Linked DNA regions of Homo sapiens. Each later gene encodes a partner of the first gene's protein in a complex. Each region holds a gene or a part of one and is shown on either strand. Other genes may lie near its edges. A codon is read from its position in the direction of its gene.

Region 1 (7,402 bases):
GGGCTGAGCTGCTGGTGGACACCTGCCCGGTCCACTGTGCCTATCCTCTCACTGCCGGAGCCGGCTCCTCCCCATCGCCGGCCAGGGCACCGCAGCTCCACGCTCCCTCAAGGGACCCCCTTCACCCTGAGGCTTGGTACCTGCTTCTCACTAAAGTGGCTTTAAGAAAGAAACAAAAAAAAGACCCAAAGCGAGAGAAGGGGCTGTTTGCTCAGCCACTGGGGACCTCCGCCCCATGGGATCAGCCCTCTCTCTGCTTTGGGGGTTTGGAGAGTCCTCGATACCTGTTGCTACCTAGACACCCCCTGGGGGGAAAACGGGCCCCAGACTCCCCATTTGGTTCCTGGGAACACAGACACCTGGAACTTGGCCTCTGCCCTGATGTGCGCCCTCCCACGCACCCAAGCGTTATATGGGGCATGGTTCGGAGGCTGCCTCCTGGCCCAGCCTCCAGGGAGCTATGGACCAGACAGGTGGAGCGTGAACAGGGTTGCTGGGGCAGCGGCGTGTGGAAAGGGGCGTAACTCACACAGGCCCTCCAGCTCATGCAAGGAGAAGCAAGAGGGGACAGCCCTGCCAAGACAGAGGTTACAGCAGGGCGAGAGCATGGTGTGTGTGTGCAGCTGGGCCGGCTCTGGGCCACGGCAGAGAGAAGGCAGGGGAAGCGGTCCACGGGGTGGGAGAAGGCAAGTCAGGGCCTGGCTCTGAGGAGAAGCCTGGGTCCCCACTGTCCCAGCTGAGGGCCACCTCCCGCGGAGGAATCTGGTGGGGGTGGATTCTCCAGAGGTGGGGACAGGGGCAGCTGAGTGGCCCTGGCTCAGTCGGGGACCTCAGGGTGGGCAGGCAGTCCGCTCTCGCCGCGCCGGTAGGTCTCCCAGAAACCTCTGTCCAGCTGCTCCAGCTGTGGGCCCAGTGGCAGGTGGCCGGCCAGGTGCATGCGGAGGGTCTCCAGCCAGTGTTCCAGCTTCACAAAGGATGGCCTGGGTGACAGGTGGGTGGGGAACGGTGGGTCTGGCTGTCCCGGGAATCGGCCCCACCGTCTCCCAGGCCAGGGCCCCACCCCACTCACCTCTTCTCGGGGTCCAGATCGCAACAGCGCACGGTGATGGGGAAGAAGCTCGGGGGGCAGTTTGGGGGGCAGTAGCGGTCCAGGAATCCTCGCACGTTGAGGCCAAAGTCCATGGTGCGGGGCAGGTAGTCAGGGTCTGCGTTCACCCGCCCGATGATCTGTCCAGTACAAGGCCCGGCAGTTACTCCAGGGGGCCCTCAGCCTGGGCATCTGGGTGCCATCCAGGTGGTTTGAGGGCAGGTGGCACTGGGCCTGGCTGCAGCCTGACTGCAGTACCCCATGGGGGCCAGCCCATGCCTTGCTGTGGGCAGGCTTCCTGGCATGAGGCCCCTGCAGATGCTGAGCCTGCAGCCTGGGTGAGTGGGGAGGAGCCCAGGCCTCAACACCGCTGCTACCCAACCCTGGACCTACCTCGCACAGGACGATCCCAAAGGAGAACACATCCACCTTCTCATCATAGCTGCGGCCTGGATAAAGAGACCGACTGTCAGCAGATGAACACATGGGGGTGCCAGGGATGCCAAAAGGCAGGGGACCAGGCCAGCTGGGAGGATGCCCCGGCCGGGAGGTCCAGGCCCAGGAGGCAGATGCCGGCAACCTCTATGGGAACCCAGGCTTAGGCTCTTTCCCCCAACCCCACCAGGTCTGAGCAAGCCTTTGGGAGCTCTGAGGAGCAAGGGGCAGAGCCCTGGACAAGGAGTTCGAGGCACCGATCAGCTGCGTGACTTTGCACAAGTCATGAACTCTGTGCTGGTCCCAAAAGGGAACCATGTCAGGTCTCTGGAATCTGTGAATGTTACTGGGTCAGAAAAAGGGTCTTTTGCAGATGGGATTAAGTTAAGGATCTGGAGATGAGATGATGCTGGATGATCTGGGTGGGCCCCAAATGCCACTGCAAATGCCCTCTTGAGAGAGACACAGAGAAGACACAGCAGAAGAGGAGGAGGTGGCCCTGTGAAGACAGGGGTGGAGACTGGAGTGATGCGGCCACAAGCCCAGGAATGCAAAACAACCAGAAGGTGGAAGAGGCAAGGAATGCATTCTCCCCTAGATCGCCCTGGAGGGAGCGCAGCCCTGTTGGATTTCAACCTTCTGGCTTCCAAAACTAAGAGGGAATAAATTTCTGCTGTTTATTTTATCTTGAGATGGAGTCTTGCTTTGTTGTCCAGGCAAGAGTGCAGTGGTACGATTGTGGCTCACTGCAACCTCTGCCTCCTGGGTTCAAGCGATTCTCCTGCCTCAATTTCCCGAGTAGCTGGGATTACAGGCGCCTGCCACCATGCCCAGCTAATTTTTGTACTTTTAGTAGAGATGGTGTTTCACCATGTTGGCCAGGCTGGTCTCGAACTCCTGACCTCCAGTGATCTGCCCGCCTCGGCCTCCCAAAGTGCTGGGATTACAGGTGTGAGCCACTGTGCCTGACCATTTTCTGCTGTTTTAAATAATCAAGTTTCTAACAATTTATTACAGCAACCTCAGGAAACTGACACAGACTCTCTGAGCCTCAGTTTCCTTATTGTAAAATGGGAATGATACCAGCTACTTAATGATGTTAAAAATAATCGGTACATGGCCGGGCACAGTGGTTCACACCTGTAATCCCAGCACTTTGGGAGGCCGAGGCGGGTGGATCACCTGAGGTCAGGAGTTCAAGATCAGCCTGGCCAACATGGTGAAACCCCATCTCTACTAAAAATAGAAAAATTAGCCAGGCATGGTGGCAGGTGCCTGTAATCCCAGCTACTAGGGAAACTGAGGCAGGAGAATCACTTGAACCCAGGAGGTGGAGGTTGCAGTGAGCCGAGATCACGCCACTGTACTCCAGCCTGGGTGACAATGCAAGACTCCATCTCAAAAACAAAAAACTGGCCGGGCACGGTGGCTCACACCTGTAATCCCAGCACTTTGGGAGGCTGAGGCGGGTGGATCACGAGGTCAGGAGATCGAGATCATGGTGAAACCCCGTCTCTACTAAAAATACAAAAAATTAGCCAGGCGTGGTGGCGGGCGCCTGTAGTCCCAGCTACGTGGGAGGCTGAGGCAGGAGAATGGTGTGAACCCGGGAGGCGGAGCTTGCAGTGAGCCGAGATCGCACCATGCATTCTAGCCTGGATGACAGAGCAAGACTCGGTCTCAGAAAAAACAAAAAACAAAAAACAAAAAACAAAATACCCGAAACAATTAGTACTAAATGTCAATTCTCATTTACTGAATGCCAACTAGGTGGAAATGAGTTTACAACCTTTAATCCTCACACTAATCCCTAAACATAGGAAACACTAAGACTTTTTTGTTTTTTGAGACAGAGTCTTGCTCTGTCGCCCACTGCAACCTCTGCCTCCTGGGTTCAAGCAACTCTCCTGCCTCTGCCTCCTGGGTTCAAGCAACTCTCCTGCCTCAGCCTCCTGAGTAGCTGGGATTACGGGCGCCCGAAACCATGTCCAGCTAATTTTTGTATTTTTAGTAGAGATGGGGTTTCACTGTGTTGGCCAGGCTGGTCTCAAACTCCTGACCTCATGATCCACCTGCCTCGGCCTCCCAAAGTGCTGGGATTACAAGCGTGAACCACTGCGCCCGGCCACTAAGACTGTTTTATAGTCTTCTTTGCGGGCTATGTTAACTCTGTGTGTGTGTGTGTGTGTGTGTGTGTGTGTGTGTGTGTGTGTGTGTGTTTGACACAGAGTCCCACTCTGTCGTCAGGCTGGAGTACAGTGGTGCGATCTCGGCTCACTGCAAGCTCCGCCTCCTGGGTTCACATCATTCTCCTGCCTCAGCCTCCCGGGTAGCTGGGACTACAGACGCGTGCAACCACGCCCAGCTAATTTTTTTGTATTTTTAGTAGAGATGGGGTTTCATCATGTTGACCAGGATGGTCTCAATCTCTTGACCTCGTGATCCGCCCACCTCAGCCTCCCAAAGTGCTGGGATTACAGGAAGGTTTTTTTTTTTTTCTTTTTGAGACACAGTCTTCCTCTGTTGCCCAGGCTGGAGTGCAGTGGTGCAATCTTGGCCCAATGTAACCTCTGCTCCTGGGTTCAAGTGATTCTCCTGCCTCAGCCTCCCTAGTAGCTGTGCCACCACACCCGGGTAATTTTTGTATTTTCAGTAGAGACAGCGTTTCACCATGTTGGCCAGGCTGGTCTCGAACTCCTGGCCTCAAGCAATCCGCCTGCTTCAGCCTCCCAAAGTGCTGGAATTACAGGTGTGAGCCACTGTGCCTGGCCTATTTTTTGTTTTCTTGAGACAGGGTCTCACTCCGTTGCCCAGGCTAGAAGGCAGTGGTATGATCATAGCTCACTGCAGCCTTGATCTCCTTGGCTCAAGTAAATCTCCCGCTTTGGCTTCCTGAGTAGCTGGGACCACAGGCATTAGGCACCACGCCACATGCCAGGCTAATTTAACTAGGTTAACTATGATGAGGTGATGGCTGGGGTCTGCCTGCCCTGAACCTGTGTTCATGTGTCACCTGCTTGTAGAAGGACTTTATAACCTATAATCTGGGCATATATAGGACCATTGACAGCAAAGAAATGGACTGAGGGAAGCAGACCCTGTGGGAGGCAGAACTATGATCCCCAAAGATGACTGCGTCCTGATCCCTGGGACTTGTATACGTCCCACCTTCCATCGGACTCTGCAGATGGGATTAAGTTGAGGGTCTTGAGATGGAGGGCTGCTTTTGGATTATCCAGGTGGGCCCAATGTCACCGTAAGGGTCCCTATCAGAAGGATGGAGGGCCATGGTGGCTCATGCCTGGAATCCCAGCACTTTGAAAGGTCAAGGCAGGAGGATCGCCTGAAGCCAGGAGTTTGAGACCAGCCTGGGCAACATAGTGATACCCCCGTCTCTATTAAAAATTTAAAAAATTGGCCAGGCGCGGTGGCTCACGCCTGTAATCCCAGCACTTTGGGAGGCCGAGACGGGCGGATCACGAGGTCAGGAGATCGACACCATCTTGGCTAACACGGTGAAACCCCGTTTCTACTAAAAATACAAAAAATTAGCCAGGCGTGTTGGCGGGCGCCTGTAGTCCCAGCTACTCGGGAGGCTGAGGCAGGAGAATGGCGTGAACCCAGGAGGCGGAGCTTGCAGTGAGCTGAGATCACGCCACTGCACTCTAGCCTGGGAGACACAGCGAGACTCTGTCTCAAAAAAAAATAAAAAATAAAAAATAAAAAAATTAGCTGGGTGTGGTGTTGCATGCCTGTGGTCCCAGCTATTCAGGAGGCTGGGGTGGGATGACAGTTTGAGCCCAGAAGGTTGAGGCTGCAGTGAGCTATGGTGGCACCACTGCACTCCAGCCTGAGTAACAGAGCGAGACCCTCTTTAAAAAAGAAAAAAAAAAGGAGGAAGGTTAGAGCCAGGGAAAGAGATGCGGGGATGGATGCAGAGATCAGAGAAGAGAAGATGCTTTGCAGCCAGCCCTGAAGACAGAGGAGGGGGCAGCAACAGGAGGAATGAGGAAGCCTCCACGAGCCAGAAAAGGTCAGGAAACAGGTGCCCCGGAGCCTGCAGAAGGAGCTCACCCTACCGGCGTCTTGATTTCAGCCCGGTGAGGCTGACGCTGGACTTCAGACTCCAGAACTGTATGATCATTTATTTAAGCCACTAAGTGTCTTCTATTTATTTATTTTTTGAGATGGAGTTTCGCTCGTCACCCAGGCTGGAGTGCAATGGCGCGATCTCGGCTCACTGCAACCTCTGCCTCCCAGGTTCAAGCGATTCTCCTGCCTCAGCTTCCCTAGTAGCTGGGATTACAGTACTACAGTACTGGGATTACACCCACCACCATGCCCAGCTAATTTTTGTATTTTTAGTAAAGAATGGGGGTTTCACCATGTTGGCTAGGCTGGTCTCCAACTACTGACCTCAGGTGATCCACTCACCTCAGCCTCCCAAAGTGCTGGGATTACAGGCGTGAGCCACCGTGCCTGGCTGCCACTAAGTGTGTTATAGGAGCAACAGGACCCACAGGGTAACTGAAGAGCCAAGGAGGCTGGGAGGGGCCAGGGGCTTGGGAGGTTACAGCTCTCCTGGGCTCCCCCATGGCTTCCCGTGAGGGCCATGATGGGCAGGGCTGAACCACTCACCGTTGATCATCTCAGGTGCCATCCAGTAGGGGTTGCCCACCACGGTGTAGCGCTTCTTGCGGTCTGGCTTCTTGAGGCTCCGCAGGCCCTCAGGCTGAGTCTTCTCGTCCACCATGAGACGCGCCAGCCCGAAGTCAGCCACCACCACATTCTTGTTCTGGGAAGGTGAAGCCGGGTCATGCTGGGACCCGATCCTAGTACTGCCCGCTTGGCCTGCCCCTCCCCAGGACCCCAAGCCAACCTGTAGACAGCCCAGAGAACATACCTCTGATACGCTGTATTGGCACAGGGTGGGGACCCCTTCCTTCCCCAAACCCATCCGCTCTTTGCAAATGGAGCTGCGGGAAGCACCTGAAGATAGCAGTGTGGCTTCCTCCCTCCCACCACACGCTGCACCCTCTGCCCCCTCCCCACCTGCTCCCCAGACCGTCGTGGCGGACCCACTGCTCCCTCCTGCAAGCGCTCCCTCCCACCTGCGGGGGCACTGATGCTGCTTTGTTTCGGAGAGAAGACAGGAATTCTTTTGTTTTTTTTTTCAGACGGAGTCTTGCTCTGTCACCCAGGCTGGAGCGCAGTGGCGCGATCTCGGCTCACTGCAACCTCCGCCTCCCAGGTTCAAGCGATTCTCCTGCCTCACCCTCCCGAGTAGCTGGGATTACAGGCGCCTGCCACCATGCCTGGCTAATTTTTGTATTTTTAGTAAAGACGGGTTTCACCATACTTGGCTAGGCAGGTTTCGAACTCCTGATCTCAGGTGATCCACCCACTGTGGCCTACCAAAGTGCTGGGATTACAGGTGTGAGCCACTGTGCCCATCAAGACAGGAATTTTGATTATAGACCCAGGTCCTGTGCTTGGCATGCCACCAGATTTACTATTTATTTAGGTTGATTGACTGATTGAGATAGGGTCTTGCTATGTTGCCCAGACTGGTCTTCAACTTCTGGCCTCAAGTGGTCCACCTGCCTCAGCCTTTCAAAGTGCTGGGATTACAGGAGTAAGCCACCATACCTGGCCCAATTTTATCTTTTTTTTTTTTTTTTTGAGTTGGAGTCTTGCTCTATTGCCCAGGTTGAAGTGCAGTGGCACGATCTCAGCTCACTGCAAGCTCTGCCTCCCAGGTTCACGCCATTCTCCTGCCTCAGCCTCCCAAGTAGCTGGGACTACAGGCGCCTGCCACCATGCCCAGCTAATTTTTTGTATTTTTAGTAGAGACGGGGTTTCACCGTGTTAGCCAGGATG
Region 2 (7,402 bases), on another chromosome or scaffold:
TAGCAAGAAGCTGAAAGCAACTGGGGCCCAGAGGTGCCCCTTTCCCTCCTGGCAAGTCCTCCACTAGGAAGGTCCCGGCCCTGTCCTCCACTTCTAAACGTGCAAATCTCTCTAGGGCTGGGTGGGGCCCAGGGCAATGGTGAGGGTGCAGAGGGCCTGTGGCTCTGCTGCCTCTGTCGCCCAGGCCCCACAGAGGGGGTCTGCACAGACACATGAGGCCCGGGGGTGGGGGGCCCAGCACACAGTAAGCGCCATCCCAGGCGCCATCATTGTCCCCATCCCATCCACACCCCATGCTCCACCTGGAGCCCTGCCACCCGCCAGCTGGCGCACAGTTTCCCAGCCAGGGAGGGGCCTACCTTGTGCAGGTTCTTCAGTCGGGGTGGCAGGTTGTCCCGAATCATCTTCATGGCTTTGAGGGGTGGCTCGTTGAAGTAGGGGGGCTCTCCGTCCACCATCTCAATCACCATTATCCCCAGCGACCAGATGTCTACCTGGGGCGGGAGAAGGGACAGCAGGGCTGAGCTGTTGGGGGATGGTGGGTCCTGGGGAGGCCTCAGGCAGGGACCGCTCCAGCGCTGTCTCTGCCTCTGGCTCCTGGAGTCCTTGGCCCAGAACTCCCTCTTGGGCACCCAGCCAGCAGTCCACAGAGCACTAGTCCTCCAGGGAGCCCCTCAAGAGAGCTGCCCCCCCAGCACCCACCCCTCTTCTTTCTGTCAACTGCCCCCAGGTGTCCTCCCTCCCTCAGCCCAGGTAGCATCCACTGGTGGGTTCAGGACCCATGCGGCCTCATCACCACAGTGGAGACACAGTGATTGGTTCAGAAACAGGCACAGGACCCAGGCTGAGCCAATCAGAGCCAACCTGGGGACTTTACCCAAAACACCCAGGGAAAAAGAGGAGCCCATAGGTGGGAGACACTTCCCAGAGCTGCCGGGACCAGCTCTGCTCCCACAAGGGGAAAGCCGGCCTGTGAAAACAATGCTCAGAAGGCAGAGCCAAGGCTGGGCGCGGTGGCTCACATCTGTAATCCCAGCACTTTAGGAGGCCAAGGCGGATAGATCACCTGAGGTCAGGAGTTCAAGACCAACCTGGCCAACATGGTGAAACCCCCATCTCTACTAATACAAAAATTAGCCAGGCATGGTGGCGGGTGCCTGTAAAACCAGCTTCTCGGGAGGCTGAGGCAGGAGAATCGCTTGAACCCGGGAGGTGGAGGTTGCAGTGAGCTGAGATTGCACCACTGCACTCCAGCCTGGGCAACAGAGCGAGACTCCATCTCAAAAAAAAAAAAGAAGAATGAATACATGCATGCCTGCAGTACCTCCTTGTCCAGAGCACCATTCCTGGCAATGACTCCCCAGACTGGGCCCCATCTCCCGCCAGCGCTGCAGCTGGAAAATGGCAGCGTACGCTGTCCACGGCGGGACAACCAAGCCACCCCGGGGCTCACCTCTGGCCCGTAGGGAAGGCGGGAGATGAGCTCTGGGGCCATCCAGTAGGGCGTGCCGACCAGCGACTTCCTTCGGGGCACTTCCTTGCTCACCTGGGCGCAGAACCCAAAGTCTGACAGCTTCACCTGGGACAGGGCAGAGGCAGTGGGGTCAGAGGAGCTGGCACAGCAGGAGGGCGAGCAGGGGCGTCTGCCTGCGTCATTCCTTGGCTTCAGACACAATGTGCGGCCCAGAGGTCAGAGCTGGGGTCTAGGGTCAGAGCTGGGGTCTAGAGCCAGACCAATGGGGAGCTCCACCACCTCCTGGTGGGGGCCCTCGGGCAAGTCACCTCCCCCACGATCCCCCCATTTCCCTCCCTGACAGCCTCTGGGGCTTTTGGGGACACTGGCCTGAGTACTGCAGATAGCAAAGGCAGGGCCGGAGCTGGGAACAGGGGTGGCCCCAAAAGCCTGTGCCCTGGGGCCCTGCTGCCCTGGAACAAGTCTTTAGTTCGGTTGGAGCAGAAAGTAGCCCTGCACTAGGGCCGTGAGGGGACACAGCCTGCCTTTGCGACAACCAGGCCTCTCACACCTTCTTAGGAACTGTGGGTCCCTTTCCGATTTTTGAGGATTTCTATGGGTCTTCCTGCCTCCAGCAAACATCCCCACAACCGTGTGTGGACAATCTCAGGTGGCCCATAGACATCGCCCCCAAAACACATCTATAGACATCTGGAGATTTTCAGACTGTCAGTGACACAGAGCTCTCTCTGCCTCTGCCTGGACTAATGGTGTGGCTTAATCTTCCTTGGGGGAGGGGATGGAGTCATCCACTTCTGCAAGCATTTCATTCAAGTCAAGGGCCCTCTCTCACAGAAAATCATGTCCACCCGACGTTATAATTGTCACAGCCTCAGATTTGGAACCTCAGTCCAAAGCATGGAAGACAGGACTGGGGTCCATGGACCGCCCTGGGTGCTGGGCAGGGAGCAGCTTTTCAGTGGAGGAAGAAGCCTGTGGCGGGGGCTGCGCTGTCTGCCCAGATCCCTGCCCCTGGGCCCAGTGTCCTGTGCTGATGGCAGAGCCCCCGCCAGCCTGTGCCCTCCCACTGCACAGAGTCCCCACTGAGCTGGAACCTGACTCTGGGCTGCTCCACCAGGGAGGGACGAAGTTCCCAGCTCCTCAAGACACAGACCTGGGGGTCAGAGCTCACCTACCCTCACAGGGGATGGGAAGAGGCAGGGAAGCCCCGCAGCCGGAAACCTGCCGCCCCCGTACCCCGCCGCCCGTCCCCTCACCCTGCCATCATGGGTCAGCAGGATCGAGTCGCTCTTGATGTCCCGGTGGATGACGCCCTGGGCGTGGAGCACCGACAGGGCCTGCAGCACTGCAAGGCACACGGCCGCGATCTGCTCCTCGTTCATCCTGCGGGGTGGGGTGGGGGGTGAGCAGCCAGCTGGACAGCACCCCGGGGTGCCGAGGGGGACGCAGCCCTGCCTTGCAGTGGGAGGAATCTGAGACCACTCGACCCCACTCTGGAGTGGGAGGAATGGAAGACACGACCCCATCCCAGGGGCCCGGAGCACAGCTGGTTTGGAGATGTGGCCCCACCCCTAGTGGTCTGGAGGGGACTTGGTCGTGTCACAGGAGGGGTCTGAGGCCCCAGAAATACCTGGTGTGGGTGACGATGTCGGTGAGGGCGCCTCCTTCCAGGAACTCCATGACCACCCAGAGCTCGTCCCCCACCAGGTAGCTGTTGTACATCTCCACCACATTCTCGTGCTGGTAGTCCCTCATGATTACCACCTGTGCAGGGGCTGGGTCAGTGGTGGAGGGAGGCGGGAGGGCTGCCAGTGCCAGACCCAGCCACCGCCACCCCCCTGGCTCCCCCTGCAGTTCCACATTAAGCTTGTGCTCACTGGGGCCACCTGGACTGCCCTCCCCTACTGCCACAGCCACGTGGGCCTCAGAGCCAGCTTGAAGCCCACGCCTCCCTTCTGGGGGCGCGCCCCCCTGGGCACACGCCCATCTCAGGTCAGTCCTGGGCTAGTGCTGGGGGGCAGGTGGGAAGAGAGCGTTCAATCACAGGGCTGAGACCCGGACAAGGGCAAGGATGAGAGAAGAGGCGTGTGTCGGCGGGAGGATGAGGAACCCAGGCGAGGAGCTCCATGGTGCAGCCCGGCACTGTGATGGGCAACGGGGTCGAGAGGGGCCTCACACACCCGGCAAAGGGACCTGGGCTTCCTATCGTCAGGGTGCTACGGGGCACTGCCAGGGTCTCTAAGGAGGGACGGGGAGGGGGTGGGCCTGAACGTCAGAAACATACTCTTGGTGGTTGTGTGGGCTGTGCCGAGGGACACCCAGGAGTGGAGGCCAGGGCGGGGCACAGGGAACCCAGGAGGGGCAGGTCTGGAGGACACTGTACCCTGGAGCCCAGGCGGGCCTCAGTGGGTGCGAGGGGCCTGGAAGACACTGGGTCGGGGGTCAGTGGCCCGAGGAACCCTGGGTCTGGGGCTCAGGGACAGAGATGTGGGTGAGGGTGCTGTGAGGACAGAGGCAGGGACCCAGCTGGGGCGGACGAGACGGCCTGGGGAGGGAGAAGAGTGAGGGGAGGAGGGGAGCCTGGCCCAGCACGGAGGAGTGCAGGGAGAGGAGGGAGGAGGGGAGGGAGGGTGGGAGGGAGGGGTGGGAGGACCAGCAGGGCGGCAGGGCAGCAGCGCCCGCACCTCGTTGAAGAGCAGCTCGCGCCTCTGCTGCTTGCGCAGGTCCATCTTCTTGACGGCCACCAGCTTGCCCGAGCTGCGCACGGTGGCGATGCACACGATGCCCGTGGAGCCCTCGCCAATCTTGATGAAGTTGTCCAGGTAGGAGCGGGGGTCGCCTGGGTCCACCACCAGCTGCAGGGCAGCCCGGAACTGCTCATGGGATACTCGCTGTGGCTCCCGCTGTGGTGAGCGGGGGCCAGGGGGCCCAGGAACAGCAGGGGCGGCGGGGGTGCAGGCTGGAGGGGCCAGCTGGGGCTCTGAGGCGTGGGGTCCCAGCACTCCAGGGCTGGGGGCACCTCGGGCTCGGGTGGGAGGCCGGGAGGAGGAGGAGGAGGACTGGGGGATGGCCAGGCCCCCCGCTGATGGCCCGTTAGGGGCCACGTCATGAGGCTCCCCCTGAAACAGAAGAGAGGTAGCTGTCAGTGATGGGTGCCAGGGAGCAGCTCTGCTCCCTAAGCAGGAGAGAGACCCAGCGATGGGACAGACACATGGGTGGTCAGGATGAGATGCACGGTGGTGGGGCGGGGCTGGAAGGTGGGGACAGAGGAGCAACGGGCAGGGGACAGTGGGGGCCCTGGGGCGGGGGATGGGTTACCTGGGCACCCCGGGATGGGTGGTCCGTGTCAGCCCTCGGGTAGGTGTTAAAGGGCCGGCCAGCTGCCAGTTTCGCCCCACTGGCCAGACCAGCAGGCTGGGGGGTGCCGACATCAGGCCCGGAGAGGGGGCGTTTGTCCCGGGAGGACTCCTGGGGACCCCCTGAGCCCTCCCTGGAAGACTTGGGCCTCTTCTCTGGCCCCGCCCGTCGCCTGTCACCACTGCCGCCACCCGCCTCGCTGTGACCGGCGAACCGGCCTCGGCTGCCTGCCTTCCCTGGGCCCCCTCTGGCCGTGGTGGCCGGCTCCTCTGGCATCCCATTTTCCTGGCGGGCACGGGCGGGCGGCGGCGGGCTGTCTCTCCGCAGGGAGTTGGAGCGTGTCACCGACATGTTCTCAAACTCGTCCAGCAGCAGCGTGAGGGCCCCATCTTTGGCACCTTTGCTGCCCCGCACGATGGTCTGGGGTCCCAGGCAATGGTGGGTGGGGGCCCAGCAAGGAGTGGGGCACACAGGACGTGCATCCGACACGCAGGGACAGGACAGCACGACACACACAGAGACAAGACAGAGACGCAATGAAGAGATGCCATGGAGTGACAATGGCATGGGCAGTGCAGCCCCTCCCCTCCCTGGGGACACAGCTGCAGGGGCCAGAGGAGTGATCGCCATGGCCAGGCTGCTGCCCCCTGGGCTCGGTGGGACCCTGGAGAGGCCCCCCTTGTTTTTCTCCTGTTCCTCACACTGGTGGAATAGTCCTGCCCTGAGGGGTTTGGGGGAGGAAGGGCAGAAATTGACCCACCCCATAATCAGCCCCGAGGGCTGCAAATGACAGGGCGCTGGGGCCAGGGCCTGGCCTGGCACTTCCTCCCATGTGGGCGCCAGTGTTCCTTAGCCCCAAAACCACACTCTCTGCTCCCATGAACAACAAGGAGTGGGGGACAGGGAGAGTCAGAAAGGCCTGGTCCCAAAGTAGAGGGCAAGGGGGTCCCAGGAGCCGGGTGGCAAATGCAAATGCAGATGGGGACCAGGCAGAGCATCCAGTGCATCCCGAGTCACCCGGTCCCCACCCTCTGTGGTCTGAGTCGTGTCCTGCAGGCCCCCTCTGCCCCCGTTCCATTTCCAGACACACGGGTGTCTCCCCCACCCCCGCCCCCCTGCGCCCAGGGCCTCTCCGCTGGCGGCTCCCTCTGCCTGGAACATCAGCTCTCAGGGTCCCTGTGGCTCCCTCCCTCCACTCCTTCAGGTCTTTGCTCAAAACTCAGCTTCTCAGTGAGGCTTCTGCTGGCCTCCCATCATCTAAAATGCCAGCCCCTGCCCTCCCCGGCCCCTGCCCTGCCTGCATTCTACCTAGAGCACCTAACAGCAGCTGATACAGAGCACACAGGCATCTGTCTGCTCCCGGCTCTGCCTAGTGCATGCTCTGGGCAGGGATTGTTTTTTCCTGTCTGCTTCGGGTCCTGCTCCATCTCAGCACCTAGACCAGCATCTGGCGCACAGCAGGGGCTCAGTGAACTTTTGCTAAACCACGTAGTGAGTGAGGTGTCTGTGCAAAGGCCACAGTGAGCTGAGAACGTGGGCCCTGCTGACAAGGACCCTGCCCGGGGCTGCCAGATGTCCTCCAGCCGGAGGCCTGCCTCTAATGTGTGGAAAACACTGATCCCACGAAACCCGGACCCTGCCTGGGGCTGCCAGGCATCCTCCAGCCAGAGGCCTGCCTGTAACGTGTAGAAAACACTGATCCCACAAAATCCGTGGTCTGCCGCTGCCCTGTCTCTCCTGGCCGTGGCTGTCTGCCTGAAGCCGGGCCTTGCCCAGGGGCCCCAGGAAGTCAAGGTGGACACAAGGCCAGACTTTGCTGTTAGAACAGGGCGTTGAGGCAAGAAGCAGTGGCTCACGCCTATAATCCCAGCACCTCGGGAGGCTGAGGATCACCTGAGGTCAGGAGTTTGAGACCAGCCTGGCCAAAATGGCGAAAACCCGTCTCTACTAAAAATACAAAAATTAGATGGGCATAGTGGTGGGCGCCTGTAATCCCAGCTACGCGGGAGGCTGAGGCAGGAAAATCGCTTGAACCCAGGAGGCGAAGGTTGCATGAGCCGAGGTGGCGCCACTGCACTCCAGCCAGGGAGACAGAGCAGGAATGTCTCTCAAAAAAAAAAAAAAAAAAACCAACAGGGAGTCGAGAAGGTCCTGGGAGGCCTGAGGCCCGGTCAAGGGCAGCAAACACAAGTGCCTATGGGGCCCCAGGACAGTGCTGGCCACAAGGCCCCATGTGTGAATTCAAGTGCCCTGCCTCCTGCTGGGACAGTCACAGGCAGGCCTCACATCTGGCAAGCCAGGCAGGGGCTGGGTTTTTGGAGACACCTTGGTGGGGGCAAAGCCTACATGCAAGTGGCCACAGAGCCAGGCAGGGCGTGGAGCTGAGGTGGGTCGGGTGCGGCCTGTGGCCCAGAAGAGCCAGTGCCCTGCCCGTGGAGGCAGCTGCCACTCGCCTCCAGCTGGTCTGTCACCAGATGCCAGAAACGGCTTTGGAAGTGAAGTCTGTCACTTTCTCAGTGGAGGCAAAGAAGTCAAAGCATTCAAAAGCACCCTGCAAGGACCACACGGACC

What was found.
Region 2: the proteins of LIMK1 (region 1) and PAK4 are in contact, whole or in part, in a crystal structure (PDB 6WLY), measured with the Homo sapiens proteins. Residues at the interface, in NP_002305.1 of Homo sapiens: Lys505 (codon at 6,215), Arg506 (codon at 6,212), Tyr507 (codon at 6,209), Thr508 (codon at 6,206), Val509 (codon at 6,203), Val510 (codon at 6,200), Gly511 (codon at 6,197); in NP_001014831.1 of Homo sapiens: Glu329, Gly330, Ser331, Gln358, Arg359, Leu362, Thr404, Asp440, Lys442, Ser443, Asp444, Phe461, Leu475, Val476, Gly477, Thr478, Pro479, Tyr480, Trp481, Met482, Glu507, Phe516, Pro520.

What each region holds. Positions count from the first base shown.
Region 1 is NC_000007.14:74,114,717-74,122,118, reverse strand, and holds part of LIMK1 (LIM domain kinase 1), read right to left. Parts: intron 6,318-7,402; coding exon 6,161-6,317; intron 1,537-6,160; coding exon 1,481-1,536; intron 1,228-1,480; coding exon 1,070-1,227; intron 981-1,069; coding exon 818-980; 3' UTR 1-817. UniProt on the Homo sapiens protein: Serine/threonine-protein kinase that plays an essential role in the regulation of actin filament dynamics. Acts downstream of several Rho family GTPase signal transduction pathways.
Region 2 is NC_000019.10:39,170,767-39,178,168, reverse strand, and holds part of PAK4 (serine/threonine-protein kinase PAK 4), read right to left. Parts: intron 5,252-7,402; coding exon 4,793-5,251; intron 4,594-4,792; coding exon 4,159-4,593; intron 3,239-4,158; coding exon 3,105-3,238; intron 2,858-3,104; coding exon 2,731-2,857; intron 1,580-2,730; coding exon 1,454-1,579; intron 495-1,453; coding exon 360-494; intron 1-359. UniProt on the Homo sapiens protein: Serine/threonine-protein kinase that plays a role in a variety of different signaling pathways including cytoskeleton regulation, cell adhesion turnover, cell migration, growth, proliferation or cell survival.